Regions from separate parts of the Homo sapiens genome. Here all the other regions are linked to region 1. The links come from fine-mapping of genetic effects on gene expression. A gene starts in region 1. Each other region holds a variant in brackets. All regions are shown on one strand. Distances are between the middles of the regions. Region 1 holds the start of LMCD1 (LIM and cysteine rich domains 1). Region 2 overlaps LMCD1 (LIM and cysteine rich domains 1). Region 3 overlaps SSUH2 (ssu-2 homolog). Region 4 overlaps LMCD1 (LIM and cysteine rich domains 1).

Region 1 (8,094 bases):
AAGAATACGAGACTCAGAGTCAAAAATCCCAGTTAGGACAAGCCCAGTGATAATGATGACAACAACAGCAGCATCTTAATCCAAGTGCTTCCTGTTTTGCTTATAATCAACCATCTGCAATCATTATGGAAGCAGTGCAGTATAGGTGAAAGGGTGCAATCTGAAGTTAAAAACTCTGAATTTAAATTTCAGCTCTGCCACTTGCCAGCTGTATGACCTTTGATACAGCCCTGGGACTGTTTGGGATTTCTGTTTTCTCTGAGACTAGTTGTCTTGGAGTTCAAGTAAGATTAGGGCTCTGTCAACCAGGGAGCCCCAGAAGTAGTTATTAGACCAATATGTTCTCCAAGGAGAAGAACTCTTTTATTTACCTTGATGTTTCCAGCACCTATCAGAGGGCTTGGCTTATGGCAAGTATCCCAAAACTCCTTGATAGATGAATGAATGCTTCTAATAATCCCGTGTCAAAAAGCGATGATCCTTGGAGAAATCAGATCTCTACTCTTTCAACTAGGAAAAGATATCCAATTTTCTTCCAAAGAGAAGTGAAGAGGACCTCAGAGCTGGAGTGAGGCTCAGGTGCAATAACTACATTTCCCTCATTCTCCTGAAAAGTCCCAAGTTGTAATGGTCTGTCCAGGTGTCCGGTTAAGTCTCTGAATATAGGTCCCCTGGAACAAGAGGGTCAAGTGTAAGGTTTAAAGTGTCAAAGTCAGAATCCTCAGCTGAGGAGACAGCAACTTCTAGCAGATAGCAGGGATCCCCTCTCTGCCTACAGCAGGTCTTTTTCCAGAAAGAAGGGAATGAGCCACCCCAAGCAACAGCTCCTGACACTCGTGTTCTGAGAAATTCTGAGAAACAGCTGCAATATCTGCCTCCTTAATTGTACCTGGAGCCAAGGGTAAAAATAAGGAGGGGGAGAGACTCTTGTGGTTGGAGCTATTAATAAATAGTGTTAACTTAATAAAATTAGTATTATTTCATGGAACAATGATTTTTCAAGATGGGGCAAGGAGGGTGGCTGGGAAGGGAGTGGGAAATGACTTCACTGGGCAGGCTTTTGCCTCGTTTGAAAGGGATAAAGCTTGCCTTTGTTATATTCCTGGCTTCTGTTCCCACAGCTCTAAAATATAAAGGCTTCTGGCATGACATCCTGATTTAGCACTATTGTTCCTAGGATTTGCTACTGAAAGGACTATTCATGTGGAAACCTCCTCTCCCAGGCCAGGCTTCTGTTGGCCACTGTTTATTTACATACTGGTTTAACATGCAGCCTACCTTGGAAGTTTGGACAAACCAGGCCAGGTGTGCCATTGCACCATCTCTCCCTATTCTTACTTTGCCTGCTTACTGCATGGAGGTAGAGAGTAGAAGAAGGTTACCAGAGGTTGGGAAATGGTGGGCTGGGGTGTGAGGGGATGAACAGAGGTTGGTTAATGCGAACAAACACTGTCTGATAGCAAGAAAAAGTCTAGCATTCAACAGCACAGTAGGGTGACTATAGTCAACAACAGTGAATTGTATACTTCAAAATAGCTAAAAGAGGCTAGGTGCGGTGGCTCACTCCTGTAATTCCAGCACTTTGGGATGCCAAGGTAGGAGGATCACTTGAGGTCAGGAGTTCAAGACCAGCCTGGCCAATATGGTGAAACTCTGTCTCTACTAAAAATACAAAAATGAGCCAGGTATGGTGGCTCATGCCTGTAGTCCCAGCTTCTTGGGAAGCCGAGGTGGGAGACTCACTTGAACCTGGGAGGCAGAGGTCACAGTGAGCCGAGATCGCGCCACTGCATTCCAGCCTGGGCAACAGCGCGAGACTCTGTCTCAAAAAAAAAAAAAAAAAAAAAAGAAAAGCTAAAAGTGATTTGACATGTTCCCAGTACAAAGAAATTATAAATGTTCAAGGTGATGGAAATCCTAAACACCCTGATTTGATCATTACACATTGTAAGCATATATCAAAATACCACATGTACAATCATGATGTATCAATAAAAAAAATAAAAGCCAGAACCCAACCTCTATTCATTTGCCAAATGTGTACTGTGCCTATACCACATGCTAGGTGTTTGAGGACATAGCTGGGAGCAAACAAGGCAAAAATCAATTATAGCAGAAATCTGTGAAAAAAGAAATAGGTCATCCCTCATCTTGGAAAAGATAAGCCACAAAAAGCCCTTTCCAGGAATATGTAATAAAAAGTCACAATTCAGGATCCCTGGCTGAGATTTGGGATGACTGGAGATGATGATAAGAACTAAATTGGAGGAGGCTTTCAAGAGGAAAAAGCCTCCAGCAAGAGACAGCCCCACAGTGGGAACTGCAGCCTCCCCTTCTCACCAAATCCCTCCCGAATGGTGTACTTCGGGACCACTCTTCAGTCTCTGTGCAACCGAGTTTTATTTTAGCCCACGGGACCCTGGTTTTTCTGGCAGGGGGCACTGCAAAGACGGGTTACAGGCCGAACACCTCACAACAGAGACAGCAGTATTCTCTCTAGGATAAAAAGGGCTTGTGTTTAATCCTCTGTCAGGGCAGGGGGGAAATGCCTCTGGAATCCAAGTCTGTGGAACCGGCTCAGCAGAGAGATGTGGCTTTATAGGCAAACAACGTGGCATAGAGAGAGGAACCTGGCCAATTCTGTCTTATAAGAGTAGTTATGTTATGCGTTGCAAGGACTCCACATTCCATGGATTTGTGAACTCAGATGGAATCTTGTTTGTCCAGGCCTGCATGACCCCATTTATCTAAAAATTACTAACTTCCTAGTTTATAGTTTACAATCCTGTGCCCGCCGCCTCCCTCCCCCCCCCCGCCACGCCCCCATGAGCTTTCTCTCTATTACTCTCAGTCTCTCAGGTTAAAGCCTTGCTCAGTAATTCAGCTGTGGACCAGTTATTCTGATTATTTCCTCATCTATCGTCTTACAGTCATAATAATAATAATATCTGAGATAATATGAGCATACAACAAGACAGTATGTCCACAGGAGCATCTCTAAGATCAGGACAGTGATTTCTTGCTCATGGAATAAGAAGGATTTATGTTAAAGCAAGTTATAAGAAAGCAGTTTAATACTTTACGAACGTTAAGTTTAAAAAAATCATAACTCGCTGGAATCTTTTCTCCTCTCTGGATATTGGAGAACTCGCCCAGGTTTGGGAAACGTTAGCCAGCTCCTGCAAAACACCTCCTCCCTCAGCCCTCCCCGCGCCCCCTACGACCAGGCAGAAAGGGTGGGAAGGGGAGCACAGCTCAGCATTTATTTCTGGATCCAGCTCACTAAAAATACCTCGGCTCTCCTGTTTGATCACTCTCCCTTTTGACCTGAATGGATCGCGGGAGCCGCGCCGCCCGCCCCACCTTCGGCCCGTTGCCCTTTAAAGGAAAAGGGCGTGGGGACGGATTCCTGCCGCTCGAGGGATAGAAGGGAGCTGGGTAGTCAGGGGCCGCGGCCATGCTGACGTCAGGGCAGCCGGCGCTCAGCTCCGCTCGCTGCCACAGTGCAGAGACCTCCCTGAGGGAGGGGGACAGCCTCGCGCTGGGATTGGCTGGCCTCGCGCGAGCGCCGGCGCGGAGTGGCTGGCGAGGTTTTAGAGGGAGTCCCGCTCTCCAATTAAAGCGGCCCAGCTGCGCCTGGCTGCGCACAGAGCTCCCTCCCAGGCCCGCGAACTTGGCCATTCAGCCGCCGCTGTCCCCGCTGCGCGCCCTCGCGCCTCTGCCTGAGAAGCCAGGCGCTGTTCCCCCACCCCAGAAGAGGATGGCAAAGGTGGCTAAGGACCTCAACCCAGGAGTTAAAAAGGTGAGTGGAAAGCTGTTTGTATTTACCCAGATTCTTACTTTTTCTTGTTCCCCTTCCCATCTGTTCGCGGAAACTTCCCAAAAGGTAATGAGAAGGGAACTCTTTAAATTCCAAAACTGCATGGAAAACAAATAGTTGGGAATACATGTTTGAGCTAACAGGCACACACACCCCAAACCCAATGTTGTGTAAAATATTTGCAAAGGGTCTTATGTCTTTGGTGATGCTAGTTAAAGTTTAATTAAGGTTTTACATATATATACAATATATATAAAATGTATATAAAATATATATATAAAATATATATAATATATATTATATATAATATATAAAATATATATTATATATAATATATATTATATATAAAATATATAATATATATTATATAAAATATATATAATATATATTATATATAAAATATATATAATATATAATATATATATATGAAATCTTATGGTCTGTAAAGGAAAAACCCCTAGCTTCCTCACTCCCTGTCCTCAGGTGGCTGAAGTAAGGGTTGAGAGCATGTAATATTTACTCACAGTCTCCCTTTTGCTATTATCCCAGTGTTTTGTGTGTTTCCCCCAATACACACACACACACACACACACACACACACACACACACGCACGCAGTTTCTTTAGTTGGTGATGTTGGCAGTGGCAGCAGTTCCAGCATAAGGGAACTGATTTCTGTCCCCAGGGTCTGCACGTTTCCCTTACAAGAAGGGCTGGCCCGGAGCCCAGAAGGTCATGGGTAAACTCCTGCACAGGAGCCTGCGGCTGTGCCTATAGCTCCAATACCACTTGTTGCCTACCTGAATGCAGCTGGGAGAAGGCACAGGCTGGAGACTTAGAGAACATGTGAACGGGAAGGGAACAGAGAGACAACCTAGGCTTTACAGATCGGGAAACTGAGGCCCGGGGTCACAGAGAGTTGGTTCTAACAGGCAGCTGACTGTAAGGCAAGCCCTAGGCATCCAGACTCAGTCCCTGCCACTTTTTAACTGCACATGATTCACCAGGTCACTTTTCTGAGCCTCAGTTTCCTTGTCTCTGATGTGGGGAGGATAGGCCTAACCTCCCTCATGGCAGTGGTAGCAGGGATACTGACACTGTGAGTTAATTTCCCAAAGCAGTCATTGTTAAACTCTGATTTCACAGGGTTTAGTCTTGAAGGGCAAAGTCTTCCTTAAATATCTGCCATTAACCTGCAGGGTAGAATGAGAGGGGGAAAAACAAAAGACGTGAGAATCAAACTAAAGACACAAACAGCCACTCAGAGGCACAGCATGCACTGTCTAATTTGTAGCTGTGCTCTTCTGTAGACCACCTGCCCAGACCCTGTCACAGAGTCCAGTGGATCCTTCTAAATGTGGGTACCAAGTCACATTGAATCTGGGCATTTGTCTGGAATGTATCATGCCTCACTGCATTTGCCAAGCTATTTGCAGAATCAAGTCATTTCCCCTCCTACAGAAATTACCATAACATTTTAGACTCTTAGAAGATACCTATTAATTGCTACCTAGTAGTGAGTTATGCATGCAATGCTCTTATTTCTCTATACATTTTTCTGGACTCCTTGAGGGCAAACCTGTCTTGTTCATCCCTGTTTGAACATAGCACACCATGCCACACAGCAGGACTCAAAAACCTGTGGGTGACTCATGAGAATATCTGTCCAGCTAAGACCACACTGTTTGCATAGGCTTCATTTTATGCATTATTTTTTAACTTGTAGCATTGATATTTGTGTGTCTGAACTGCCTCCCCAAGTTCAGACACAGAATAGTTCACGGCTAAAGGTGGCAGAGTTCCATTGTCCTCTGGAAAGTGAAATGATTCTGAGTATTTTTAATATAAGCTGGTTGATAGTTACTGTATGAGGTGAGATGAGGTATATGGAGACTCCTCCTCCTCACCACAGTCCTGTGTTGCCACTTGGAGGAAGCCTTGTTTTTATTTTCCTTTGCATAGGGGAGTGTGATTATCCTGATTAGAGGTGGAACATGTTCTCCTTCTTGTCACCCCCTAGTGCCAACTTCCTTGGCCTGCAAAGGGTTTGTTTTCCATTTAGATCCAATTACAGGCTTAGAGAAAGAATGTGGTGGGTAGAGATGAAAGGGCAGATTTTTTTTATCTCTTGGGACTGCGACAATCAGGAGGAAGATCACCATTTTGTAGGTTAACCAATGCCTTCAACTCAAAATGTGGAGGGGAGGGAGGAGAGCCGAGAAGCTCCCCTTGCTGAACTGAATGTCACAGAAGTGATTAAGTACTACGTGATATCAGCAACACGCTGAAAAGCTTTTACTGCATATTTATTTTTTAAATCTGCAACAGTATGTGGGGGAGGTTTATAACATTTGGCTTCAGGATGCATAATCGCACTTAGACATTTTGAAACAATTTCATAGACTCTTAGAGCTACAAGGGGCCTATTTACAAAATGAGAAATGGTTTAAAATGGCATACAGGCTGTTTCCGCTTCCCTACCCCCGAGGGGGCTGGGGCGGGAATCCCCACCAACTGGAAAGTCATAAAAAGATCTTCAGCAAAGAACATAAAATCTAAAAACTGGAGTAGACTTAAAGGTCATCTAACCAACCCCAGACAGGCTGGGGAAAGAGACTCACTGGGGGCCACATACATACATCGTGGCAGAGCTTACAAGTTCCCTAACTTCTCTCTTTCTTTCTAAGTAAAATGCTTCCACCGGCTGCTCTTGAACCATCTTTTTTTTTCTATTAGGAAAGAGAAGGTTTCCTAGCACAGACAGTTCCCTGAGAATGGTGAAATCGCCAACATTTCTTGGTAACAAAGGGCCTTGAAGGCCAAATGCCATTTTTCTGGGTGAAACCAATCTCGACTATGGATTTGTTCTTGTTTATTAAGGATGCAAGTTATTAGTGCAGGCTTTGGCTTCAGATCTGGTTTAAGTCCCAGCTCCCCCACTTACTAGCTGTGTGCTCTTGGGCAAGCTAATTAACTTTGAGTCAGTATCCTCACCTCATTTGAAAGTTGAAGAAACAGTAACAGCATCTACCTCCCAAGATGGCTGTGATAATTAAGTGAGATGATGTACATAAAAGGCTCAGCATATGGGCACTCAGAGTTAGCCATGGCAGTCCTTGGTGGTGGCGGTACATTTCAGTGGGTGCATGGATGCGGAAAGGAATTTTCTGGTGAATGAGGACACTTTTATTTATAACTGCCCCATCTGAAGAGCACCTAACTTTCATTCAGCTGAACCTAAGCCATTGCTCAGCTTTGACAAGCTAAGACAATGACCAAATGCTGTTGCCTTCATTCTCACCCAACGGGTGCAAAATCTGCTTACATGGAACAGTCTTTCCTTCTGAACATGGATTGCCAGTTATTGAGCATTTCACTTTGGAGTTATATAATGTTAGGCCTCGAAGGGGACTTGGAGTGCCTTACTTTTTAGATAAGGAAACTGAGGCCCAGAGGGATCAAGCTCCTTATCAGAAGTTGCAGAGAAAATGTACTGAAGCCTATTAGGCTCTGCAAGAATACAGACCCCTTGACTGTCAAGGAACCATCTGTAGGAATTTAGAAGGGATTAGAAGAAAGAGAGCTAGGAACCTGTTCATAGTTGACTGTGCAGTCACCAGTGGGCTGGCTCCAGAGGGATCCAATTAGAAATTCTCACCCCTCAACACAATGCCCAAGGGGCATTAAATGATGGTACTTCTAAGTCCATTGCCAGGTCCACCTGGATGTCTCTCTCCATGCTTCTCTACATCACATCCCTCTTGGCTTTCCTGTCCTTCAGGCTAGGCCTTCCCTCTGTACTCAGCCCTTCCTGCTTTCACCTCCACTTCCTGCAGTGTGCCAAACTACTGGCACATCACCCGGGTGAGCTGATCCAATGTAAACACAGCTCCTCGTGAATTGTCGTTGGCTCTCTCAATCTTAAAAACATATTAAACTGTCACTTAAAGACCTTAATAGCCAAGACATTGGAGACATGCCCATAGGTGTATAAGCAACTTTTTTGCCATAATAGAGCCTTGTTTTTTAAAAACAGAAATTATCCAAGTCCCTTTTACATGCTTTCTAAAAACAGATGCTGAAACCATTACTTTGTGAATTGCAGATTTTTGTCCTAAGCTGCAGGTGTGTCTGACTATGCGGAGTTGGGGGCTGACAGTTGACTTTCACCAATGTATCTGCCACTGTGGTAGTGGGAGGCAGGAAAGAGCTTCATCAGATTATCTTCAGGCTTTAATCTAAGCATCTCAGCTCCAAGGCTAGGAATTTGCTCAG
Region 2 (8,106 bases), 60 kb after region 1:
TCTGCAAACAAGGTCACATGACAAATGTTGGAAACGTTCTCACGAGCAAGCTCCAATCTTAGATATTTGGGAACATGAACAAGAAACAACTGATATGCTAATTATAAAGCATTCTTCTCCATGCCTTTTACCATAGTCCCAAAGAACTTCCATTTGACCATACTAGCTCCTTAATAGGGGAAGTAACCTGAGAATGGCCTCATTGGTCTTTCTTAAAAAATAGTGTTGAGTTTAAACATCCCAGGAATTCAAATGAGCCTTTGTTGTAACTGAACTGAATTGGTGATATCAGTTTTGCTGAGCTTATGTATAAAGTTATTTTTAAACAGTCTATAACAGCGGTTCTCAAAGTGTGGCCCCAACCACACCAGCATCCCCTAGGAACTTGCAAATTCTTGTGCCCCACCCCAGATCTACTGTATCAGACACTGTGGGGAGGTGGTGGCGGTGGGGGAGCAGAGATATGTTTTAACCAGCCCTCTAGGGGATACTGAGGCAGGCTCAACCCTGAGAACCACTGTCTCCAGGGGCAGGATCAGATATGGGGAGGAGCAGGCCCTCCAAGCAGGGGATGAGTGGAGCTGAGTCTGGAGCAGTGGCAAATGATGAAAAACTCACACGACTCGATTCTCTGGCCTTGCACAAATGGAGAGAACTGATAGGGGAAAAAATAGAGCTCATCAGTGGCAGGAATGACTTCCTGCTAGTCTACATGCCCTTGGTATCATGGAAGGAAATCCAGGCCTCCAAACCTGCCTTCAACATATCTTTGTCATTTTAGGAAAGTGGTTTAATCCCTCTGGGCTTTACATTTCTAGCCTGCAAGGTGGGCAGAGTTAAGGAATACACGAGATTTTAGCAAATCATTATTGAGCCCTTATAAAGTCCAAAAATTCCATTATGTCATTTAACTCACACCACAATCCTATGAGGTTGCTATCATTACTATCGCCATTCAACAGGTGAAAAAACAGAGGCACAGGTAAGTTAGTTCATTTGCCCAAGGTCACACAGCTATGAACCCAGGCAGTCTGACTTGGTATCTCCCCTCTCAGCCACCTGTTGCAATTTAGAAATTGCAAACCTCGCTACAAAGAATTGTGGGAGAGACTAAGTTTGTGCTGAGAAAGGGCCAGGATGATGAGACCCAAGTAGGCTGGCATTCTGACTCTCGGCTGCTAGCTTGTCTCTCGTGGCTGAGGGACCACCAGACGATAGATCCAGGACAACCTCAGGTCTCTCATCCTTTGAGATGACTGAGTTAAGGATACAGAAAATGGCTTAGAGGCAAGAAGAGCACATTTCATCCTGACACATGTTGAGAGGGCTCCTTACCTGGACATCTTGTTTTCATGGAGTGATAATGATACTGTTTGCTTAAAGGGGCTGGCTACTGGTAGAAACCAGTCCAAGAGCCAGGGATGCTAGGGAGAACAGTGAGGGAAGAAATGCTCCTCCAAGAGGGGCTTCACAAAGTGCTTTCCAACGGATGAGAAGGTTGCAAACAAGCTCTGTGAACAAGAATTTTCCTTCCTTCCTTCATACTGCTGCGAGAATATCTCCCTACAGTGCAAATTAGAACCTTGAACTCCTCATCTCAAGAACCAGTAACGGGTTAGGTGCAGTGGCTCATGCCTATAATCCCAGCACTTTAGGAGGCCAAGGCGGGAGGATCCTTTGAGCTCCGGAGTTCAAGACCAGTCTGCGTAACATAGTGGGACCCCATCTCTACAAAAAATTTAAATATTTTTAAAATGTCTTAAAAAGAACCAGTCGTGGCTACCCATTGCCTCCAGAGTGAAGTCCCAACCCATAACCTGGGTTCAAAGCCACCCATGATCACCCTAAACTGCCTTTTGGACCTGATATCCCCCTCCTTCCTTCAGTGTATCATCAGGGTGCCTGCCGGTGCTCCCCAGACCAATCCAGGTGCATTTCTATCCCTCTCCCTTTCCCTACTTTCATGTCAATTCACATTTGTAAATGTGGAGTGGGGAGCCCCATTGATATATCATGGTGTTACCCAATGGGGTGTAGTTTGGTGAACTGACACGAAGTCCCTTTTGTGTGGGAGGGAAAGAGCTGGAAATTTCATTCTGTAGAAATAAGAAGCCAGACAGACAACTCACTTTGTATTCAGACAGCCCTGGCCAAAGAGTTTACAGTTCCCAGCTATGCAGGAGGGAGGGTGAAAATAAGTAGATGATGACTGGTCACTGATTTTTTGTCTAGACCCCCTGATGGGCTCCAAGCCAGCTGAGTCTCAATCATGTGAAGAGGAACAGGGTTTTCATTTGAGCGAAAAACTCACACCACTCATTCTTGGGGGTGTAACTGAAACCACAAATCTAGCATGTTCTAAGGAACATTATCAGGCACAGTCAGGATCCAGTTCAAGATATATCTAGTTGACCAAACACATTCCTTATATAGGCAGTCATTCAAGAGCTCCTACGCTCAGAAACTGCTATCAGTACATGACGTTCCTTGTTATTCAGTGTTCTTTTCCTAATTTTCACCATTTTAATGTTTATTTCCTCTTCAATATATGAGTATATTAAGTATGTAATCAAAGTATATAAGTTAAGAATAGTAAGTGTGCAAACTCTTATGTGCTTCCCTGTCTTCACATGGCAAAAAAGTAAATATTTCTATTTTGGCTGAAACATAGTTGATACTTACTAAGTTTAAATTAGCATCTAAAGCCAGGCTCAGCAAACACTTTCTTTGGAGGGCCAGGTGATAAATATTTTAGGAGATGTGAGCCAAGAGCCAAAATTGCAATATCATGTGGGCACTTTATGTAACAAGAGAGAAAACAACTTTCCATGGGTTTTTTAAATGAAATTCAAAAGATAATAATAATTGAGCACAGAGTTTTTTTTTTTTTTTTTCCAATATAGGTCTACTAATGAGAAAAGCAGAAGGGGTTCTTTCTTGGGAGAAAACATTTCACTGAATTGGAGGGCAAATGTAAAATCCAGTCTTCATTCTCATGGGGCTTGCGAGAACAGACAGTGGCTGGGTTTGGCCATGGGCCGTAGCTTACTGA[T/C]GCCGGATCTCAAGTCCACATGATGGAGTAGAAAGAACTTTGGCTTTGGAGTCAGGTTTGGCCTTTGTTCAAATCCTAGCTTTGCCTCCCATCAGCTGTGCATTACTGAGCAAATCACTGAATCTCCCTGACCTTCAGTTTTGTAATTTCTAAGAGAGAAGATAATGATTTTCCGAATAGAAAAATAACTCTAGAAGGAGAAATAACTCTCTCGGGCTTATGTAAGGGGTAATAGTAATGCGAGCAAAGTCCTGAGCACAGTGCTGGATGCAGACACGCTGTAGGGACATGACAGCCATTGTCGTTTCCATCATCATCGGGGCTTACAGGAGCAGGGGATAACTCCAAAATGACTCAAAAGATTGTGTGGATTGAGAATGTCAAGTTCCCATTCTTTAGAGGATGAGAATAGGCAAGTTATAAATGTGCGATGGATGGATACCTGAATGAACCAGTGAATGAATGAGCATTTAGCAACTTTCACTGCTCCTGGGAACTGGCAGAAGACAGAAATCTAGAGCTCTCACAGAGAACTTCTCCCAGGCACACTCACCCTCCCCACAAAGCCCCAATCCTAACTGAAGCTGAGGAACAACATGAGTTGAGGTCCACCTTGTCATGGTTTCTGAGCAGGCCAGTGAAAATGTTACTGGCAGTAAAAGACAGATAAAGGAGCCCCAGATGGAAAGAGGATGACAAACAGCCAGGCACTGGCTACATTAACTGCTGAGAGGCCCTGTAGGGAAGCTGCTTCTCACCTCTAGCCATTGGGCATGCTGCTCCTTTGCCATGCCAGAATGCATTCTCCTGGGAGCCCTCCTAGCCCTTCAGACAATTCCCTGAGTTTAGTCTCCCCACCCGACCCAGCTCAGTTCCCATAGAAAGCCACAGAGCCAAGGGCGGCAGTTTGAATCCCAGCTCTGTTTCTTGGCTGTGCCCCCCTTCACAAGCTATTTTGTCTCCTTGGGCCTCGCTGGTCTTATCTATAAAATGAGTGCATTTCCTGTGTACCTACATCTCCTATCCAGAGGATTGCTGTGAGATAAATAGGAATGTGGTTGATCCCTAGAGCCCCTCATCCCTCAGAGAGGCCTCTCCTGCTAAGGTGGTCCCTGCTATCCACCCCCAAAGTCACTCTCCATTCCCTTACCCTGTGATTGTTTTCCTAGTATTTATCACACTCCATGATTATCTCATCTGTTTTTTTATATATTTATTTTCTGCCTCCACACACACAAAGCTCCAGTTTCCCTGAAGGCTCTGGCATTATCTGCCTGGGTCACTGCTGTATCCCCAGCATCTAGTCCAGGGCCTAGCACACAGTAGATGCTCAGTAAACATGGATGAGCCCCTGAAAGGCAAGAGTGTTTTGAAAGCTCCCAAGAACTTTCCACAACTGTCTCTGGAGCCCAGCTCTCTGCTGCACTTAGTCTAAACCTGTCTCTAAGGTGCAGACAGATGCATCATCTGCTAGTGTCTTCCACACTCATCTGTTGTCCCCTAAGTAGGAAGTATGAGGTGGGAGGGCAGAGGTTTCCAAATATTTATTGTTCATCTACTATGTGCCTGGCACCGAGGAGATGTGAAAGCAAGCATAGTTGGATGTGGCTCCTGCTTCCATCTAGTGTAGAAAGAACAGGTATCAAACAACCATACAGAGAAAGGTAAGCAGAGAAGCTTTATTATGGACTTAATTGCCCCTGGAAGGAGGTCAGAGAAGATTTCCCAGAACCAAAGATCTTTAAGTCTCACATCTGAAGAATGAAAGGGAGTTAATCAGGCAAACAGGAACGGGAACAATGTACCAGACATCCTGAACAGCAACGGCAAAGGCCTCATGGCAGGGTGGAGCATTCCTTCATTCAGCAACTATTGATGGGGAATTTATGTGTGCGGGGCCCAGTAGAGGGTCCTGGGTCAGAGCTGCAACCAAGCAGCCTCTCTCTGCCCTCTGCAGCTAGCCGCTTAGTGGAGAGAACAGATATAAATTAGATAATTCCATAGGTATTTAAAAAATAATGTTAGCTAACATACATGGAGTCCTTTTGGGGGATCTGCCAAAATCATGCATGGGTTCCAAATAACTTATGTAGATACTTGGCCCTGGAGGAGATGGAGCACTCTTTAGACATGGAGGGCTTGGTGACTTCCTTCCAAAGAGGATAGTATGGAAGTGGGGAGAAGAGTCACTTTACAGTGAAGAATCTGACAAACACTGCCTCCACCAGAAGGTCAAAGTCAACCGCAACAGTGACAAGTGAGGGCGACAGTATGTACCCTTGAAGGATGTGATAAGAGGAGCAGTTTGCCCCGTGATCTTCCTCCCAACGTACTCATCATAGTAACATCAGGCAAATCCCAACTGAGGGACATTCTACAAAACACCTGACCAGTACTCCTCAAAACTGTCATGGTGGCCAAAAACAAAGTCTGAGAAACTGTCCCAGCTAGGAGGAGCCTCAGGAGACATGACAGTTAAGTGAATCTGGGATCCTGGAATAGAAAAAGGACATTGGGTAAAGTTTATGAACACGTGAATAAAGTTTGGACTTTAGTTAATAATAGCATATCAATATTGGTTAATTAATTATGACAAATATACCTTATTAATGTAAGATGCTAATAACTCAAGAAACTGAGTGTGGAATATATAGAAATTCTCTGTGCTGTTTTTGCAATTTTTCTGTAACTCTAGAACTACTCAAATATTATTATTATTATTATTTGAGACAAGGTCTCACTCTGTCACCTAGGCTGGAATGCAGTGGCACGATCATAGCTCACTGCAGCCTCAAACTCAAACTCCTGGGCTCCAGCAGTCCTCCCACCTCAGTCTTCTGAGTAGCTAGGACTACAGATGAGCACCATCACAACTGGCTAATTTTTCAATTTTTTTGTAGAGATGGGGTCTTGCTATGTTGCCCAGGCTGGTCTCAAACTCCTGGCCTCAAATGATCCTCCTACCTCCAGTTCCCAACGTGCTAGAATTAAAGGCATAAGGCACCACTTCTAGGCAAAAATATTATTTATTAAATATTATTTAAAACTCTTCATGCACGGGTAAAAAGATCCATTCAAAGTGCAAGGTAAACAAACAGGTTTTAATGTAAACAAATATGAAAGGTTCACTGATGTGCTTTCAGATTTCACACTGCAACTAACTTGAGAAAGTATCCTGTGTCAAATTTTACTGTAGTATCAAAGAAGAATATCCACAGTTGCCTGGAAGGTCCTTTAAAATGCATCGTCCTCCTTTTTCCAACTTTATGTCAGTGTGAGTTCAGATTTTCTTCATGTATTTCAACCAAAACAACAGCATGCAAAAGATGGGCTGCAGAAGCAGTTATGGGAATCCAGCAATCTTCTGCAAGTCATTGAAGAGATTTGCAGATATATAAAACAATGTCTTAAAATTTTCTTCTACTTTTTTTGTTTTGAAACATATAGTTATTTTAGTAACAAGATAGGTATGTTAATGTATTACAGGTTTAGTATTGTCATTTTTAAATGAATTAAAAAAATTTAAATTGTTCTCAGTTTTAATTTCTCTTATGGTAAATATCAATAGCTATTACCCACATGAACAAAAACTCTGTAGGGGTCTTGATAATTTTTAAGAGTATAAAGGGTACTGAGACCAAACAATTTGGGAATCACTGTGCTAAATAAATAACTTTATTTAGTCCTCGTGAATAGCCTGTTAGGTAGGCAATATTATTGTGTCGCTTTGCAGATGACAAAACTGAGGCACGAAGAGGTATAGTGACTTGCCCAAGGTCACCCAGGAAGTAGAAAGGCTGGAGCTGGAATTCGAACCCATGTCACTGTGCTCTCCTGACTTCCTTGTCTCCTATGGTCCTTCCCCATCCTTCCAGGTCTGCGAGCTCTGCAAGGGAGCGGCCCCTCCTGACAGCCCCGTGGTCTACTCGGACAGGGCAGGCTACAACAAGCAGTGGCACCCCACCTGCTTTGTGTGTGCCAAGTGCTCCGAGCCGCTGGTGGACCTCATCTACTTCTGGAAGGATGGTGCACCCTGGTGCGGCCGCCATTACTGCGAGAGTCTGCGGCCCCGGTGCTCCGGCTGCGATGAGGTGGGAGATAGCCGCGAGATGGGTTAGGGGGCTTGAGGGACACTGCTGAGGGTAAAAGCCCAGAGGCCAAGAGGAGCATGGCTTTGTGGATGATGTGTTCTACAGATTGGGAAACTGAAGTCAGGCCTCACTGCATGCTCTCAACCTTCATTTTCTCATCTGCAAAATGAGGCAGACAACCATGGGATTGTTGGGAGGGGTCAGACACAGTGCCGGTGAATCTTGTCCTTGGCATAATGCCTAGCACTTAGTAAGTACTCAGAACATAGCAGGATGAACCAGGAGGCATTGCCCACGTTCAAACCTGTATCTGCATCTCTTATTATTATTATCATGTGGTTACCTAACTCCGGAGCCTCAGCTGAGTCTCAGTTTTACTACTTATAAAATAGGGATGAGACCAGCGCCCATCCCATAGAGTGGCTATGAGGATAGATGAGATAATGCATGAAAATGCTTGCCACAGGGCCTGACCTAGGAACTTATAAATGGTAGCTGCTGTTAGTCTTACGATAATATACTATAATATGAGACTTAACATTAATATGACACAATACAATACAATATGATAGAGATGCTATGAAAGAGATTCAAGTCTCTGATACTGGTTTGATGAAAGTAACTCTAAGGTGTATTAATAATGGCAATACTAATTATGATCATAGTATGTACTATTTGCATGCCTTTGGTTGCAGGCAATATACTAACTTCATCTTTGGCATGTATGAAGGTTAGAAATGTCTTCTTTATATTGAACCAACATCTATTTTCTACCACCTTCTACGAATTGGTCACCATATGAAGTTAAGACCCTGTAGTCCTCTTACCTAATAACTCTGTTATTAAGTGATATTAAGAAGGAAAAGGACTGTCACAGGCCTGCCCTGGAGCCTCATTTTTGAAGTGACAACAGTATATGCACAATAACAATTCTCTATCATTTATTAAGGGCTTACGGTGGGT
Region 3 (8,106 bases), 130 kb after region 1:
ACGCCTAGGGATGGTCCTCAGTCTGAGCTGAGCCCAGGGGGAAATCCCTAACTCAAATGGAAGAGTGGGGTGCAGGGCTTCTGGTGGGGGGATGCCTGAGGTGAGCCTTTAAAAAGCCAAATTACTGGAGCAAAGAAAGGAGGCTGACACACCTCCCTATAGTTTGAGGACCCCCATCAGAAGTCCCATTGAAGCCAATCTCTCTGCCAAGGCCAACGGCAGAGTGAGAAAACCTTTTCTGCTAAGAACCAAATAGTAAATACTTCAGGCTTTCAGACTATGTAGTCTGTCATTATCCAGCTCTGTCCCACCATCAGGAAAGCGGCCATAGACAACCTGTCAGAAAATGCGTGGGGCTGTGTTCCAATAAAGCTTTATCGACAAAGGCAGGCAGTGGGCTGGGTGTGCCAACTCCTGGCCCGCAGGACCCTCTCCTCTGGCTGAAGGTACCTCTCACTTCTGAGCTCCTAGCTCTGCCCTGCTCACTGCCCTCTGCCAGTCCTCAAGGCCTCTGCCCCACTGTCCCCTCGCTCCCACGCCACAAGGTCCACTCCCCAATTGCCCTGCATCCAGGTCTGTGCCCAAGGTCACTTCCACAAAGAGGCTTTCCCACCTCCAGCTGGAACGACACTGCCACCCCTCCCTGCCCCTTACCCTGCTTGAATGTTTCTCAGTGCCCCTTCACCATCTGACATTGCTATAAAAGGGTCCATCATAGTCCCCTCACCAGACTGTAAGCTCTATGAGGGCAGGGTCCTTGTTTTATTTGCCATGGTCTACCCAGGGCCAAGAATAGTGCCTGATATAGGAGGAGGGTCTCAAGATTTGTGGAAGGAAGGAGGGGATGAGGAAGAAAGGGAAGGAGGGGATGAGGAAGGAAGGAAAAGAGCGAGGAAGAAGGGAGGGAGGGAAAGAGAGAAAGAGAGTATTAGGAAGGAAGAACGGCATGGTGGGTGGGGAAGGACAGAGGGCTGAGTGTGTAAAAGTCAAAAGGAAACTGACAGCCCCCAGGCTCCCCACAGCCTTATCCATGTCTGGGGAGCTCTGCTCCTACACAACCTGTCCTTCCAAGGAATGCAGCCTGCACACACAGCTAGCAGCCCCAGGCCCACGAGAGCAGAGGAGGAACCCAGCTTCCTTTGTTCCCATCTACAATGCCCTCTTACCACCGAGTTTTCATCCTTAAAGAGGTTTTCTCCTTTGGCTTTAGCAAGGAGCTCCCTGGGGCAGTTGAGCCGGTGCTCAGACACAAACTCAAACAAGCTGTTCTTCCTGGAGGGAAGGAGGATGAGGGATGAAAGCACACAGTGTGGCAGGTTAAAAGCATGGCCTTTGCAATCAGACAGACCTGGGGTTGAGGGCTTGAATTGCTACTGGAGGGACCTTGCAACAGTTCTGTAGCCTCTCTGAGCCTCAGTCTCCTCACCTGTAAAATGAAGCTAGTAAGGAGAGTGACAGTTCAGCTCCATTACCTCATTTCATCTTTGCCTACAAAGCACTTAGCAAGGTGCCTGAGACAGGAGAAACCTTTAATGCACGGAAGCCCTGACTGACTTAGGGACGTAGCAGGATGCTATGGCTCTATTCCTACGGGAAGGGCTCAGTTGTGGAGCGGCTGCTGCCCTAGAAAGTGGTGATGGCAGAATTTGGACTGAGGTCTGTCTGTTCTAAAGCCAGTCAGCATCCCACAACCCCACACTGCCTCTTCCAAGGGAATTCTCCCCCTTCTAAGTCCTGGCAGGTTCTTGCACTGTGAAAGCCCCAACCAACCACAGTTTCTCTGCAGAAGCCAGTCCAGGGCTAAGTCCCTCAGCCACCCCCGCATGCCACAGCATTGAGACACTGCCACATACCACATGATGACAAGCTGGATGAAGTGCAACAGCTTCTTCTCCCCCTTGCAGGTGGCGCAGGTCTTGTTCCCTCTCCCTGAGCAAGTGCTGCATCTGAGAAAGGCACAGAGTCCGTACCCCCAGATCAGTTGCAGGTCCTGGTGGCTTCCAGAGGCTCCCACCTGCACCCCCTTCCTCCTGGAGGTAGACTGTGGTGGGCCTGCATTGTTTGTACCTGCCCACCACCTAGTCCTCCTTCTGCTGGCAGTGCCCCAATATCTCTATGGGGATCACCCTTCCCCCACCCAGCCCACATGGCTCTAGGGCCTGCCCCCCCCCCTCCCCCACCACTAAATTCTGTGAACAGCTTGGGATCTGGGACTGGCCAATCATCTTATTCCATGTCCCTGGTCTCAGTGGCTGATACAAAGATGGGCACATGACCCAGGCGAGTGCAATGAGATCTGTCCCAGGATGTTTGTCGGGACTATCGGGAAAGGGACATCTTTTCTCCTGGGATTAGTAAGCTTGGAGCTACTGGTGATCTCCTCTGCCACTACAAGGAACCCCCTGCCTGCAAATGAAGCCCACACAAAGGAAAGCAGAGTGAGAGGTGGATACAGATTCCTGGTGGTGTTGTTTAAGCACCCGGATCCAGCTGGGCCTGAAGCCATCCCTGAAATATACCCCTGGACTTCATTCTTACCTAGGCCTGTAAATCGACTTTTTTTGCCAAAGCCAATTTGAATTGGATTCCTTTCACTTGCAAATGAAAGAAAAATAAGTGTCTTTTTCCCAGTCAGAGACTGTCTCTACCAACCACGATGGAAGGTGCCACCAAAGCTTCTCCAACTGGCTTGTCAGAAGGATGGCCTGGGCTTTAATGAGGCAAAAGTATCATTAACCAACCCAACCTTGAGTATTTTTACTCCTCACGGTTTCCTGTTTCCCTTAAAAAGTTATAAATACACTAAAGGATAGGATTTACAAAATGCAATGGCCCAGTGTTTGCAAAGCTGTGAGCAGTGATGAAATTTTGTTTATTGTTTAGTCAATCAACCAACTTTCCTTGACTCCTCCTCCATTCAGACCCCAAAATGAGTTATAAATAGGGGCTTGCCCAGGAACTGATCCTCAGTGAGTTAAAAATCTGGCCTTTAGGTGGTTTTTGATATTCACTTCCCAACCCGTGGGCGGGAGAGGTCTCCTTTCCTGGTAACCCCGTCCCTGTGTTTCCTCCCTGCAGTGGCTCTTTCTTCACACTCTTTCCACATATATTGCATGACGAGTTCCAGCCTTGTCCAGAAATGCCAGGCCTTGAGAAAAGCTCACCTACTCTTCAAATAACCACAGAGCACCTACTACGTGCAGAGCTCTGGGGACACAGCAGTGACGAGACAGATGGGTTCCTGTTTGCCTTCCAGATGGGCAGGCAATGAAAAGCCAGAAAGCAAGAGCACTTCACCGCGGTGCTGGGGAGATGCCCCTACCTTCGCCTGCCGGACCCCGCGCACAGCTGACATCTCCGGGACTGCTTGGCTTTGCGCTTGGCTCCGCAGCAGGATGGGCACCGCACCTGCAGACACACCACTGCCTCAGCCCCCGCTGGCCTCCCAGGAAGCAGGGCCAACGGCATCCCAAGACCTGGTTCAAATCCCAGCCTGGTGACCTTCCTCCCCCTGGGCCTTAGCCCCTTCATCTGTAAAATGGTGCGGGGTGGAGATGGGGTATCTTTGGATCCTTCCAGTTGTAGCTTTCAAAGCCTCCACTCCCTAAGATCCCTGTTTCTTTTGAGACATCAGCCTCTCCTGCCTCTTCTCTGATCCCCACAACCCCTGAGACCTGACCCCTACCAAGTGTTGAGAGGAAGCTGGGACACAGGCGCTGGTCAGGGGCCTGGCACTGGAGACAGGGGGCTCCTTTTGAGAAATGGCCCCCAGAAAAGGCCTAGGCTGTGCTCCCAGTTGGGCTCATGGTGGGCTCCAGAAACATTCCAGGGAAGACCACCGCTGGGACCCACAGGCAGTGCAGGAGTGAGCTGGGGATGCAAACCCAGCAGGCGAGGGATGAAAGGGCTGGTGGAGAAGACAGTTCACGGTAGCCAGGGTCAGAGCATGGCCAAAGGATGAGGCTCGAATCAGGACACCAAAGAACGCGAGAAGTTTGGTTTTACCCCCTGGGATTGTTAATAGGCCTGAATGAAGGTTTCTGAAAAGACAACTAATGCCATGAGTAATGCCACTGAGGGGCCTGTGCTGGGTTGAATAGCGGCCCTTCCAAGTTCAAGTTTACTGGAATCCCAGAGTGGGACCTCATTTAGAGATAGTCTTTGCAAATGCATTTAGTTAAGATGAGGTCATATGACAAGGTAGGGCCTAAATCCGATGACGTGTTCTTATTAGAAGCCCATGTGAAGACAAAAAGACATGCAGGGAGAAGGCTGGGTGACAAGGCAGGTGGGGACTGAAGTGGCACAGTCACAAGCCAAGGAACACCAAGGACGGCCCGCAGCTCCCAGAAGCTGGGGGAGAGGAAGGGGATGGCTTCCCTCTCAGTGCCTCCAGAAGAACCAGCCTAGCCCACACCTTGATTTTGGAATTCTGGCCTCCGGAACCGTGATATAATAGGTGTCTGGTTTGTTGCTGTTGTTTGTTTTTTGTTTTTTTGAGATGGAGTCTTGCTCTGTCGCCCAGGCGGGAGTGCAGTGGCACGTTCTCCGCTCACTGCAAGCTCTGCCTCCTGGGTTCACGCCTGTCTCCTGCCTCAGCCTCCTGAGTAGCTGGGACTACAGGCGCCCGCCACCATGCCCAGCTAATTTTTTGTATTTTTTTTTAGTAGAGACGGGGTTTCACCGTGTTAGCCCAGATGGTCTCGATCTCTTGACCTCGTGATCTGCCCGCCTTGGCCTCCCAAAGTGCTGGGATTACAAGTGTGAGCCACCACGCCCAGCTGTGTCTGTTGTTTTAAGCCACCCATTGGTGGTCATGGCTTACAGCAGCCGAAGGAAACTAACTCAAGTGTCACTGTCTACTTTGTCTCTCCAAGCCTTCCAAACTTTACCTGCTCAGCACCCACTGCCCTGCA[C/G]GACAAATGGAGTTGCTTGTTGGTTTCCCTGGCTGACAAAGACTGCCTGGTAAGAAGAACCCCAGGTCTTGGCCCTCTTACAGGACCTAGAGGTCAGAGCCAAGCAGGTATTCAGTGTATGTTGGTAGATGGATGAGAAAATAAGAGAAAAATTAAAATCGAACTGTCAAAGTGAAAGTGTCATTAGAGACCACACAACCCCACTTTTTCATTTTATAGACGGGAAAATGGAGGCCCAGAAAGGGAGGATGACTTGGCTGAGATGACACAGTTACTGCAGGGAGCCTCAGGCCACCAGCCCAGCCCGCTGTCCCCAGGATCCCCCGGCCACCACACCCTCACTGACTCACCAGTGGTTCACAGATGACTCACCGTGCCCGCCCCGTGGCAGCCGCTGCACTTGTACCGCCCACGCCCATGGCATTTGTGGCATTCCTGAAAGTGCAACGCTTTCTTGGGATCTAGTTTCCCAAGGGCCACTTCTCCCACACCCATAACATCACCATCTAAACCGAAGGTGGAGTGGATCAGGACCAGGATAGGAAGATGGCACAGGAAAGAAATGGCCCTTCCCATTTGACTAAGATTCCAGAAGGCTTGACTGCATCAGGAGATCATGTCACCATTTCCTCTGAGCCCTAGCCCAATCTGGATGCCATCAAGGGGAGACGTGTTCTGGGAGCCCCATATCCTAGCTCACACTCTACGGTTTCCTACCAGGCTGAACTACAAAGGCTGATGGCATTTGCCCATAAGGTAGCTAATGTGGTCTTTGGGAACAGAAGCCATTAAAAAATGGACAGGATTTTTATGAAAGGCAATGAGCTAGCTACTAGTATTTAATCACTAATTTAAAATAGCCTTGGCCCCCTTGAGAAAGGAATAGAACACTTTCTCGACCTCTCAAAGTACTCTTTATCTTAGAACTCTGTAAAAACTCATAGAGCAAAATTGCACCCTTAAATCCAGTCCAAAAGTGTAAAGCAGGCAGTAACCGGAAAAGAACACAATATGAGCTATCTCAGTCGTGTTTTTGTAATCCACTAGGCTCCTCTCCCTTCACGCCACGAATATATGTCCATAAAGCAGGATGGAAGTCAGATTCTGTTTCCTTACTGACTCTCATGCAAAATCCCAGCAGGGTTTTAAGTTTTTATTTTATATCAATTTCATTCAGCCCTTCAGCTGTTTAAGCTAAAATAAATTTTTAAAAAAGATGAAAACTACACTCAACCTGTCCAGGAATGTCACTGCTCACTAAAGCTGGTGACGATTTGTAAATCGGATGATCTGTTTGCTAGGTGAACACTCCCAGATTTGCTTGGAATTTTATTTGGGACTACATTCCATATACCAGGTTTTATTAAATTACGTTTATTTATAACCAACAAATGAAGCACCGGCCTGAATTTTGGGTTTCCCTTCAAAGGATGAGTTTGAGGAAACATGCAGTGCCTGGAAAGCCTCTCAGGGAGAAGGGCAAGTATTCCAGTAATCGCGTTAATCGTATTACCTTGACCAGTGACGAGTGAGGGACCTGGAACTTCCTGGTGTCTTCCTGAAACATCGGAGGACCTTGAACCTTGATGTCCCAGAGCCTGGGGGAGGCGCCTCTTTGCGGCCCATCCACAGAGTGGTCTGACACAGAAAGGGGTCATTGTAAGAATGACGAAGGGCAGCAGGGATAAACTTTCATTTATCCAGCAAACAGCATGAAGCCTTCAGTTGGTGCCAGGCATGAGTCTAGATCCTGGGGCTACAGGGATGGATAGTCAAGGCCTTCCTTGGAGGCAGTGACTAAGCAACCAAGATTTAGAGAGAGACAGATCTGGGTTTGACTCCTGGCTCTTTTATGTCCTAGCTGTTTGACTTTAGAGAAGTTTCTTACCCTCTCTGAGCTTCCATTCTCTCATCTCTAAAATGGGGATAGTCATGGCACCTACCATACAAGATGGTAGTGAAAATTAAACGGAAGAATGTATATAAAATTGTTAGCACCAGGAATGGCACATACTGAGGGGATGACACACAAGAATTGTCACCATTATCATCACCATCCCCTTCACCATCCCATCTTCTTCCTCTTGCTCTGTTCAAGGAGACAGACAGCACACCATCACAATAAGATATGATAGGATATGATACATGCTTTGGACAAGAGTTGCATAAAGGGCTCTGAAAACTCAGAAGACTGGCCCATCCTGCTGGGAGGGGAGCAGCAGGAGGAGAAATCCTGAAAAGCTTCTTAAAAGAAGTGACACGTGAGCTGAGTCTTGAAGAATGGACCTGAGCGGTCTGTTAGGGAAAACAAGGAGGACATAGATCTTCCCAAAGAGAGAAGCTTAGGCCTCCAGTGGGGGCTCAGCAGAAGGTGGGGTGGCAAGGCGAATGGGGAGCACAGGGGCCTAGAAGCTTAGGAGGAATTAGGGGTGGCATGAGGGGGTGTAGGTGAATGCTTAGACACGCATGCTGCTTTACAGCCCGGCCCCGTGTGGCAGCACCAGACTGTAGCAAAAGCAAATGCTTGGCTTTTTCAGGACCTCCTGCTTCCTGGGCAGGAAGCATTTCCTAAGATAAGCACTGGAAAGTCTCTGAGATGAAAGTCCATCCTCTCATTTTGCAGGGGGTAAGGAAGCCAAGGCTCCAAGCAGAAGACCATCTTATTTGAGATGAGTGCCTGAGCCAAGTCCTGATATTTTCCACCAGCACCCTGACTTATTTGCCCCCAGTTAAACTAATTTCAGACAATTCACTTACTAGTAAAGGGTTGAAATGTCCACTCGCTTATCCTGGATTCACTAAAGGTCTCCAGACGGTACTAAAAGGAAAAAAACAGCATGTTCACACTCGTGCCCCTTATGAAGACAGAGCATTATGCAAAAAGATGAAGCTGTTACCCTCCCAGGGCTCAGTGGGGAAACTGAGAGGTCCATGCACAACACCCTCGGCTGCTGGAACTGGCTGACAACAGCGATTTCTGTTCCACGTGCCCCCATGTCTGCAGGGAAGTCAGCCAGCCCCAGGAAATCTCCCCTGACAGGCTCAAACTAGAGCTAATTCAGTTCCCCATGAATTTATACAAAGATTCTATGAGACAAGCTTCAGAGCAGTAGCTGTCTTTGATAGATGGAGGTCCCTGGAATCTATGGCTTTGAGATTTCCCTTATGGAGGAATTTATCTCCCTGATAT
Region 4 (8,106 bases), 27 kb after region 1:
CCTCCTTGGCCTGCCAAAGTGCTGAGATTATAGACGTGGGCCACCGAGCCTAGCCCAAATTGATGTTTTGATATTCATATACATTGTGTACTAATCAAACTAATTTTTTTACATGGTGAGAATACTTAAGATCTACCCTGTTAGCAAATTTCAAGTATAGAATACAGTATTGTTAACTATAGTCATGATGCTTTACATTAGATCTCCAGAACTTACTCATCCTGCCTAATTGAAACTTTGTACCCTTTGACCAACATCCTCCCATTTCTCTTAATCCTCAGCCTCTGGCAACCACAGTTCTCTTCTGTGTTTCTATGAGTTTGACTATTTTAGATTCCACATATAAATGAGATCATTATTTGTCTTTCTGTGCCTGACTTATTTCACGTAGCATAATGTCCTTGAGTTCATCCATGTTGTCATGAATGGCATTATTCTTATTCCTTTTTGAGGCTGAATATTATTCCATTGTGTGTGTGTGTGTTTGTGTGTGTGTACGTGGGTGTATGTGCCACATTTTCTTTTTCCATTTATTTGTTGACAGACACTTAGGTTGTTTCCATATCTTGGCTATTGTGAATAGCGCTGCAGTGAACTTGGGAAGGCAGTTATCTCTTTGAGATACTGATTTCATTTCCTTTGGATGTATATCCAGATGTGGGATTTCTGGATTGTATGGAAGTTCTACTTTTAATTTTTTGAGGAACCTCATACTGTTTTCCATAATGGCTGTACCAATTTACATTCCTCACAACAGTGCACAAAGGTCCAGGAAGGGAGATTATTAAGACAATGAGCTGAGAGCCTAAAAGTCCAAGTTGGAACGGTTGAAGTTACAATGGTGAGACCAAATGATTCCCAAACTTGTCTGAACATTGGCATCCCCTGGGAACTTTCAGAAATACTGATGCCTGTAATCAACCCCCAGAGATTGTGGCAAAATTTGCCTGGAATGCAGCCCAAGTTTTGGAAGCATTAAAAGATCCCCAGGAGAGTTTAATGTTGCAGACAAGTTAGGGAACCACTGTTGTAGCCCCTCGATACTCAAAGCGTGGTCCCTGGGACAGCAGAAATGGTTTCTCCTGGGAGGTAGGTAGAACTATATGTCAGGCTTGCCCAGACTTGCTGAACCAGAGTGTGCATTTGAGCTAGATCCCAGGTGATTTTGTGCTAATCAGAGTGTTTACTTAATTTAAGGAGCACTCCCCTCCTCACACACCCAGAACAGGCAAAATCCCCTGCTAAAGGACAATCTCATGACACACTGTTTCTCCTTCCTAGCACTGATTCCATTTGTAATTTTACATTTGTGTGAGTTGAGAAAAACGTGTGAGGGCCCCAAAATATCTGGAAGAGGCTCTTTGGCATGGAACTGTAGTGCATTGGTTAAATTAAAATGTGGATCTGGAATTCAGATACCTGTGTCCAAATCTAAGCTCTAGCACTTTAATTTGACCCCTTTGAACCCCACTTAACTAGAGATACTGGATTTTTCCAGGCTTTTCTGGTTTTCATACTAAAAAGTTCTACATCCTAGGCACCAAACAGTCTAGTGCAAACCAGGACAGTTAGTTACCCTTCAGTTAACTCATATGCAACCTAGAGGCACTAACAATGTATCAGTGGTCTCAAACTTTAATTGTTTATCAAAATCACCTGGAGGTCTTGAACAGCGATGTCTGGGCCCCACCTGCAGAATGTTTGATTTCATAGGTCTGGGGTGAGGCTTGAGAATTTGCAGTGCTCACAAGTTCGCTGCTGCTGTGCTGCTGCTTAGAGACCACACCTTGAGAACCACTGCAACATACCTCCCTTGTAGAGTTGTTGTAAGATTTGTACAAGGTCAGCCTTCACACAGTGCCTGGAAAACCACAAATCCTAGTACTTGTTACAGCTACTATTGTTACTTTTGATTATGGAAAAGATGGGACTAAAGATGGTCCCTAAAGAGTCGGCAGGTTTTAAGTTCTCTGAGGTTTAGATGAGCATAAGCAAAATCCCAGAGTTTGCGTGGATTTAGTTCTGCAAGAGGCTCAGGTGGTTGGAAAGAGAATCTGGGTGGAAACAGTAAATAATATGGAAATAGAGACAAATTTGGACAGGTTACTAGCTGTTGAATCTTGAAGAAGAGCTTAACCTCTCTGAGCCTCAGTTTCCTTATCTGAAAATGAGGCTAATGAAATTATCTCATAAGGTTGTCAAGAAGTTTAGATGAAATATCATGAAAATGTTTGGCATGTGCCTGGCACATAGGAAGTACTCAATAAATGTTAACTATGATCATGATCACTGGGAAAGATAAAACACTTTTGATTAAAGGCCAGTATAGGAAAAGGTAGATTTAGGATACCCCACCACCACTGCCTTCAAAGGAGCTCCAATGGAGACCATCTGGATGGGCAAGTTGCTTCTCCACTCTCAGACTCAAGGTCATTCATCATCTTTTGACTGGGAATAATGATGATAATAATTATACTTCAGTGGGAAGTCATATTATTAAATAAGAGAATTACTAAGTAAAATCACTGAGTAAAATTCATGGCAGTAGGGTAGTTTCAGGGTCATATTTTTAAATACAATTCCAGTCCTTTCCTGGACCTTCTGATAATTTTATTCCACTCAACCCATCTCACTCCAGCTTCTCTCCCAGAACCCCTAGGGAAGGGTTTGTTTTAAATAACAAGTCATGTTGACCAATAATCTTTAATAACATGTATGCTTATAGAACTTAACCTGTAAAAGACACGTCTGCATTGAATAGAATTTTGTGTCAATTTGGAACGCACCACCTCAGAAAGGAAACCTGTGAGTAATCATTAGGGCGTGTGATAGTACTAAGATACCACTTTCAAAAAGATAGAATCACAATTGTTGTGCAAATATGAAGTGAAACTTAACAAAGATTGTGTTCTACCCATTAATGAGGGAACCCGTATGATATTTAGGCCAGTTTAAAAAGCGCTTGAGGAGTTAGGTATTTATAAGTAATTTAATGTTAGGACAAGATTGATGGGTTAGTTACAAAACTAGTTAATGTCTTCCAGAACAGTAAACCATAACATTTGGGGTTATCTTTTTTGAAAGGACAGAAATTGTTTGTGTCTCTATTGGACCAAGATCTGCAAGTTAACGTGTTACTTCAGAAAGACTTGGAGCTGAGCAAAGTAAATTTCTCTAGATAATCCTATGGGGATGAGGAGAGCCAGTGCCATATTGCCTCCATATGACATTGAAAGGATGTGCCACTCACCTTTCTGCCTTATGTCTGAGTTTTAAGTACTTTTCTAGGGGGCCGGGGGGACAGGATGGAGTGCAGTGGCGTGGTCATAGCTCACTGCAGCCTTAAACTGCTGAGTTCAAGTGATCCTCCAGCCTCAGCCTCTCAAGTAAGCTGGAACTACAGGCACATACTACCACACCTAGTTTTTTTTTGTTGTTGTTTTCCTGTAGGGATTGGGGTCTCACTATGTTGCACAGGCTGGTCTTGAGCTCCTGGCCTCAAGCAATCCCCCTGCCTCAGCCTCCCAGAGTGCTGGGATTACAGGAATGAGCCACCACATCTAATTATTTTTTTAACAATGGCAAATACTTATTTCAATTTACTGCCTTTTAATGTTACGTGATGCTTACAACAGCCCTATTGAGACAAAGAAAGGGCAGGGATAATTCATTTTTCAGAGGAGGCAATTGAGTTACTCCATGAGGAAGAAGCTGAGCTGGAAGGAGAACCCCCATTTTCTAATTCCAAATCCCATGCTCATCCCTAAATTCCCAGTTGCATTTTCTCTTTTACATTCCTCTTCCTCTCAACCCTACATTGTTCTTGGTGACATTTTTTTTCCCTCTAAGACTTCCCTTGGGATTCACCTGAAGGCAAATGCTTGAGAGAGGAGTCCCAGAGTTGCCCCTGCTCCTTGCATCCCCAGGGGTCTCCTGGTCTAATCTAAGTCCTTTTAAGTCCCTGCCACCATTCAGTTTCACGATAATATCAAATGAACCACATCCTACTAACCCAAGCCAAGGAAAATCGTCAAAACATTTCTTTCTGTTCTCGGGAGAAAGGACAGATTAGATGCTGCATTCCAAGAAACCTTTTTTTAAGTGATGGTTTCTTTTAAACTCTTCTATTCTCAGCTACTGTGAGACACTGTGCCGTCTTTCAAGAGACAGAGCCCACATCAGAAAAACCTACTGTTTATAAACCAGAGTATCTCACTTGGGACTGTGGCTGACTGATGTTTTCCCCTCCTCAGTAAACAAGATCGTTCTCTCTGTGTTGAAGATAGCGGGGTCTGTCTGGCTTCTGGATGAATGGCATGCAGTGGACAAATGACTATTTATTGCATTAAACAGTCAGCCAGGAAACTAGCTGCAAGTGTGGCCTGATGACCTGAATCAATTTCTTCCTTGCAAGGCCATTTATTTTTCTCTCCCACATACTTCTGTTGCCATGGAAACTGTCCCACTAGCAGATGGAGACCAGGGCCAACTCTC[G/A]CTTCCTGAACCTCCATTTAGTTTAGCGTTCTTGCCCAACTAGGCCAGTCGCCTGTGTCTTCACTTGCCTGACTGCATGGGCTTTCTTTGTGCTTGTTGAGATTTTAACGTCGATTCTCTTCAGGTGATTGGTAGCAGAGCACCGCGAGGGCAAAGGGCTAGGGATGGCCTCACTTAATGAGTTAATCATTAAGTATGGGACATGTGTGAGCTTATTTTGTTTTTACATTTTGTAGGAAAACCTAGTCAGAGAGGCAACTCTTTTTACAAGTCAAAAAAGTAGAGAATAAGAAAGTATAGGGGGTGTGTATTTAGAAAAAATAGTTCCTCTGAAGTCCCCTAGCATTTTGAAGCTAGAAAAAAATGTGTTGAGAATATCTAATTCAGGGTCTCTCAAACTTTTCTTCACAAGATGTAATTAATGACAACAACAAAGAACGCTCAGTGCATAATAAGTGTGTGCCAAGCCCTTTTCAGGCAGCATCCCGTTTAACCTCCTGGTAACCCTGCAAGGCAAGTTGCATTCTTGTTATCCCCATGACGCAGGTCATGGAACTCAACAAGCCTACTTGCCCAAGTACAGTGGAGGAAAGGGGAAAAACTGAGACTAAAACCCGGGACTAAAGCCTGGGTCTCCAAACCCGAAACAGTTGCTTGCTCTCTACCTCACTTCTTGCTTCTAACGTAGGCTGGCCTGTTAAAGGCTCGGGAGCCTCTACACATCCAGTGCCTGCCATTTGTATTTGATCAGGTAATTCTCTGTCCCACTCCCAACCAGGAACCACTTCGTAACATCTCACCAAGTGAGGATCCTGCAGAACAGAATGTGGGCAACCCCAGTGCAAGCCAGTTCCTTATTTTTCAGAAGAGATGCTTTAGGCTGGGCAAGGAAATGACTCATCTCCAGTTACACAGCTAATAAATGCCAGAGTTGGCACCCAAAGGCCAGACCCCCGCATCACCGGCGAGTGCTCTGCTCTGCTCTGCTGTGCTACCTACATCACTATTCTAAATCAAACCCCGAGTTTGCAGACAGATTGCAGCTCCACTCTCCAAGCCAAGCATCAGAACTAATCCCCTTGTAGAATGAGGGTTAAATCAGCCTCTCATTAGAAGAACAATAAAGCTGAAGTGTGCAGGGTGCTTTGCCACTTGGAAATGCTTCCACCTACCTCTCCGGTTTCCAGCCTTCTGAGTATATCTGAAATGGTCCAACAATGAAGCCTTATTCACAAGTTGTATATCTCCCAAAATAAACTTTGAGTGACTCCAATATTAAGTGTGTAAGGATCACTGCATTTCAACTAGGAGAACTGAAGGTGTCAAGGGGAGGTGGAAATGAGCAAGGTTATATGCCAGTGGCTTTAGGGAGCAAAGTCCTACCTGTGAAAGAAAGCTCCCAGCTTAGGAGAATGAGTTAGCAGTGGGTGTTGTCTTAATTTTCACTTTTCACATGAATCTAGCATTGAATAGGCCTAAATATAAACCTGCTTCCCTCCACACTCCACATATGTGCAACATGACTCTCACTCCCTGAAGCTGTAAATATGTATTGAACAAAATGACAAAGTGTGTGGGGACATGGTGTACACAGCAGTCACCAAATAGAAGGCATGGAGTGAGGCATTATTGTGAGAAGATTTGGTGCTGAAGAGAAGTATTGTGAAGGACAGCTGTCTCTTTCCATACGTCTGAATTCTACCACTGGCAATGAGGATGGCTTCACAAGTTTCACTGCTTGTATTTTCCCTCTTAAATGCAAAGAGAGTAGACTAGTAGCATCCAAAGGACATGCTCACATTGCATACCCTACTCATCATGCCTTTCATACCTTTTTTACCTTGCACATTTTCTTCCTTCTGCTAGGCATCTCCTTTCCCTTTTCTGCCTGTCCATCTTGCACAGCCCAAATCCAAAGTCACCTCCTCTAAGAAGAAGTAGTCTGCTCTAATAAACTCATATTTCCCATATGAATTTATTAACACTTTCCCCTGTGCTTCTAAAATCTGTGGCAAAATAAGAGCAGTTACCATGTCTAGTGCCTAATGTGGTCCTGCACGTTACTATATTATCTCGGTATCCACTTGGCAGATAAGGAAACTGAGGCTCAGTATGTCCAAGGCTAGGCAGCCAATAAGTTACTGAAAAGCTCGATTTGGAATCCAAGTCTCTCAGACTCCAAAATTCGTGCCTCTTTTACTACACAACATGCAGCTTCCTTTACCTCAGACTTGCCCCTTACAGGAGCAGGAGATGAATGTGTTTTTCTCTCCATATCCCCCTAGCTAACAGTGAGTTCCACTAGGGCACACCTGAGTCTTATGTTGTATTCCTGTGTCTGGTACATAGTAGATGCTAAATAAATGGTATGTTTGTTGGATAAGAAGCTTATCCCTTTACATTACTAGTTGATTGAGCCCTGCTTCAGGTGAAATCATAATAAAGTACATCCCTGTACCAAGTCGTCCCCACCCCAACCCCAATGGAGAGTTGGGTAAGTTTCTCAGCCAGCAGATCCATATTACTAACCCACTTCTTCTCCAATGTTAATGTAATGCAGATCTCCTGGGAATTTTGTTAAAGTACAGATTCTGATTCAAACAGGCTGGAGTCGGGTCTAAGGGTCTGTATTTCTGGCAAGCCCCAGGTGACGCTTCTGGTTTGAAGATGCCATTTGGGTTTAAACACCTCAGCAGCAGCAGCAAATGCACTTTTGGTACCTTTGGCTGGTAGCAAGTAATAAAACCTGTCTCATGCATTGTTCTCCTTCCAAAGGAGATTTTAAGTGCTCATGTGATTTTTCAGTGTTTTAGCAAAATATTTAAGTTATGCTTCAAGCTATAAACATTTGGCAAAATGCACATTTGTTTGTGCCTGTAGCTTTGGTTTAATCACACTCTATCAATAAATCACAAATAAATGAGGGAGAGGAGACACTCACTGAAGATTCCATTCCAGTGACAAGTGAGAGTGGGTGAGGGTGGGGGATGGAATAGATAGATGGTCACTCACAGCAGGGCGTTTCCAACCAGTCTTGCTGTTTTGAAACAGCACTGGAGGCTGGGAAAGAACCCCCATTGCATTCTTATTGGGAAGAGCCCCACCCTTCCACAATTGCCTACCCTCTGGCCCCATTCCATGTTCCTGTTTGGTCTTCTCAGTTCCCGGTAAACAGTTTGTGATGGCTTATTGATCTCAAGCCCTTTGAACCCCACACAGTCCCTTTGCCAGCACGCCAAGTCTTTTAGAGGTCAAGCATCTCCGGTCCAAGATGTTTGGAAGGAAAACACCCTCTTTTCTGTTCCTTTTCCAGATGTCCCTGGGCCAGCTGCAGTCAGCAAGAGGTGTGGCATGTTTGGGATGCAAGGGGACGTGTTCGGGCTTCGAGCCACATTCATGGAGGTAACAGATTTTGTCAGGAGGGTCCCTGTCTGCCTTTGTTACTTGGCTGTCCTCTCGGGGAACCCTGGTTGCTTTCTTCGCTGAGACTGCTTTGGTTGTATGCGTTGTCAGGGAAGGATGGCTGCAGAGGGAAGGCACTCCTGCTTGGTCCAATTCAGAAACGAAAAAAGTCCTTGGGGGAGTGTGGCGGGGGCAGTAAAGATGTGAAGA

What was found.
Region 2: its variant is fine-mapped to the expression of LMCD1 in atrial appendage (GTEx, PIP above 0.99).
Region 3: its variant is fine-mapped to the expression of LMCD1 in whole blood (TOPMed, PIP 0.90).
Region 4: its variant is fine-mapped to the expression of LMCD1 in whole blood (TOPMed, PIP 0.93).

Annotation. Positions count from the first base shown.
Region 1 is chr3:8,498,179-8,506,272 of GRCh38, forward strand. It overlaps LMCD1 (LIM and cysteine rich domains 1), which reads left to right and starts at 3,645. Exons shown (of 6, transcript NM_014583.4): 1 at 3,645-3,802. The coding sequence starts at 3,761. It overlaps LMCD1-AS1 (LMCD1 antisense RNA 1), which reads right to left and starts at 3,480. Exons shown (of 4, transcript NR_033378.1): 1 at 3,293-3,480; 2 at 372-671. RefSeq lists enhancers at 299-1,232, 1,233-2,166.
Region 2 is chr3:8,558,505-8,566,610 of GRCh38, forward strand. It overlaps LMCD1 (LIM and cysteine rich domains 1), which reads left to right. Exons shown (of 6, transcript NM_014583.4): 5 at 6,928-7,143. Among named protein-coding and RNA genes, the nearest start is that of LINC00312, 9.2 kb to the right of the region's middle. The variant T/C (reference allele first, on the strand shown) is at 3,053.
Region 3 is chr3:8,624,376-8,632,481 of GRCh38, forward strand. SSUH2 (ssu-2 homolog) reads right to left here. Exons shown (of 12, transcript NM_001256748.3): 5 at 7,674-7,734; 6 at 6,430-6,554; 7 at 5,289-5,351; 8 at 3,323-3,408; 9 at 1,854-1,946; 10 at 1,167-1,272. Among named protein-coding and RNA genes, the nearest start is that of SSUH2, 16 kb to the right of the region's middle. RefSeq lists an enhancer at 5,148-5,237. The variant C/G (reference allele first, on the strand shown) is at 4,917.
Region 4 is chr3:8,524,930-8,533,035 of GRCh38, forward strand. LMCD1 (LIM and cysteine rich domains 1) reads left to right here. Exons shown (of 6, transcript NM_014583.4): 2 at 7,808-7,896. Among named protein-coding and RNA genes, the nearest start is that of LMCD1, 27 kb to the left of the region's middle. The variant G/A (reference allele first, on the strand shown) is at 4,495.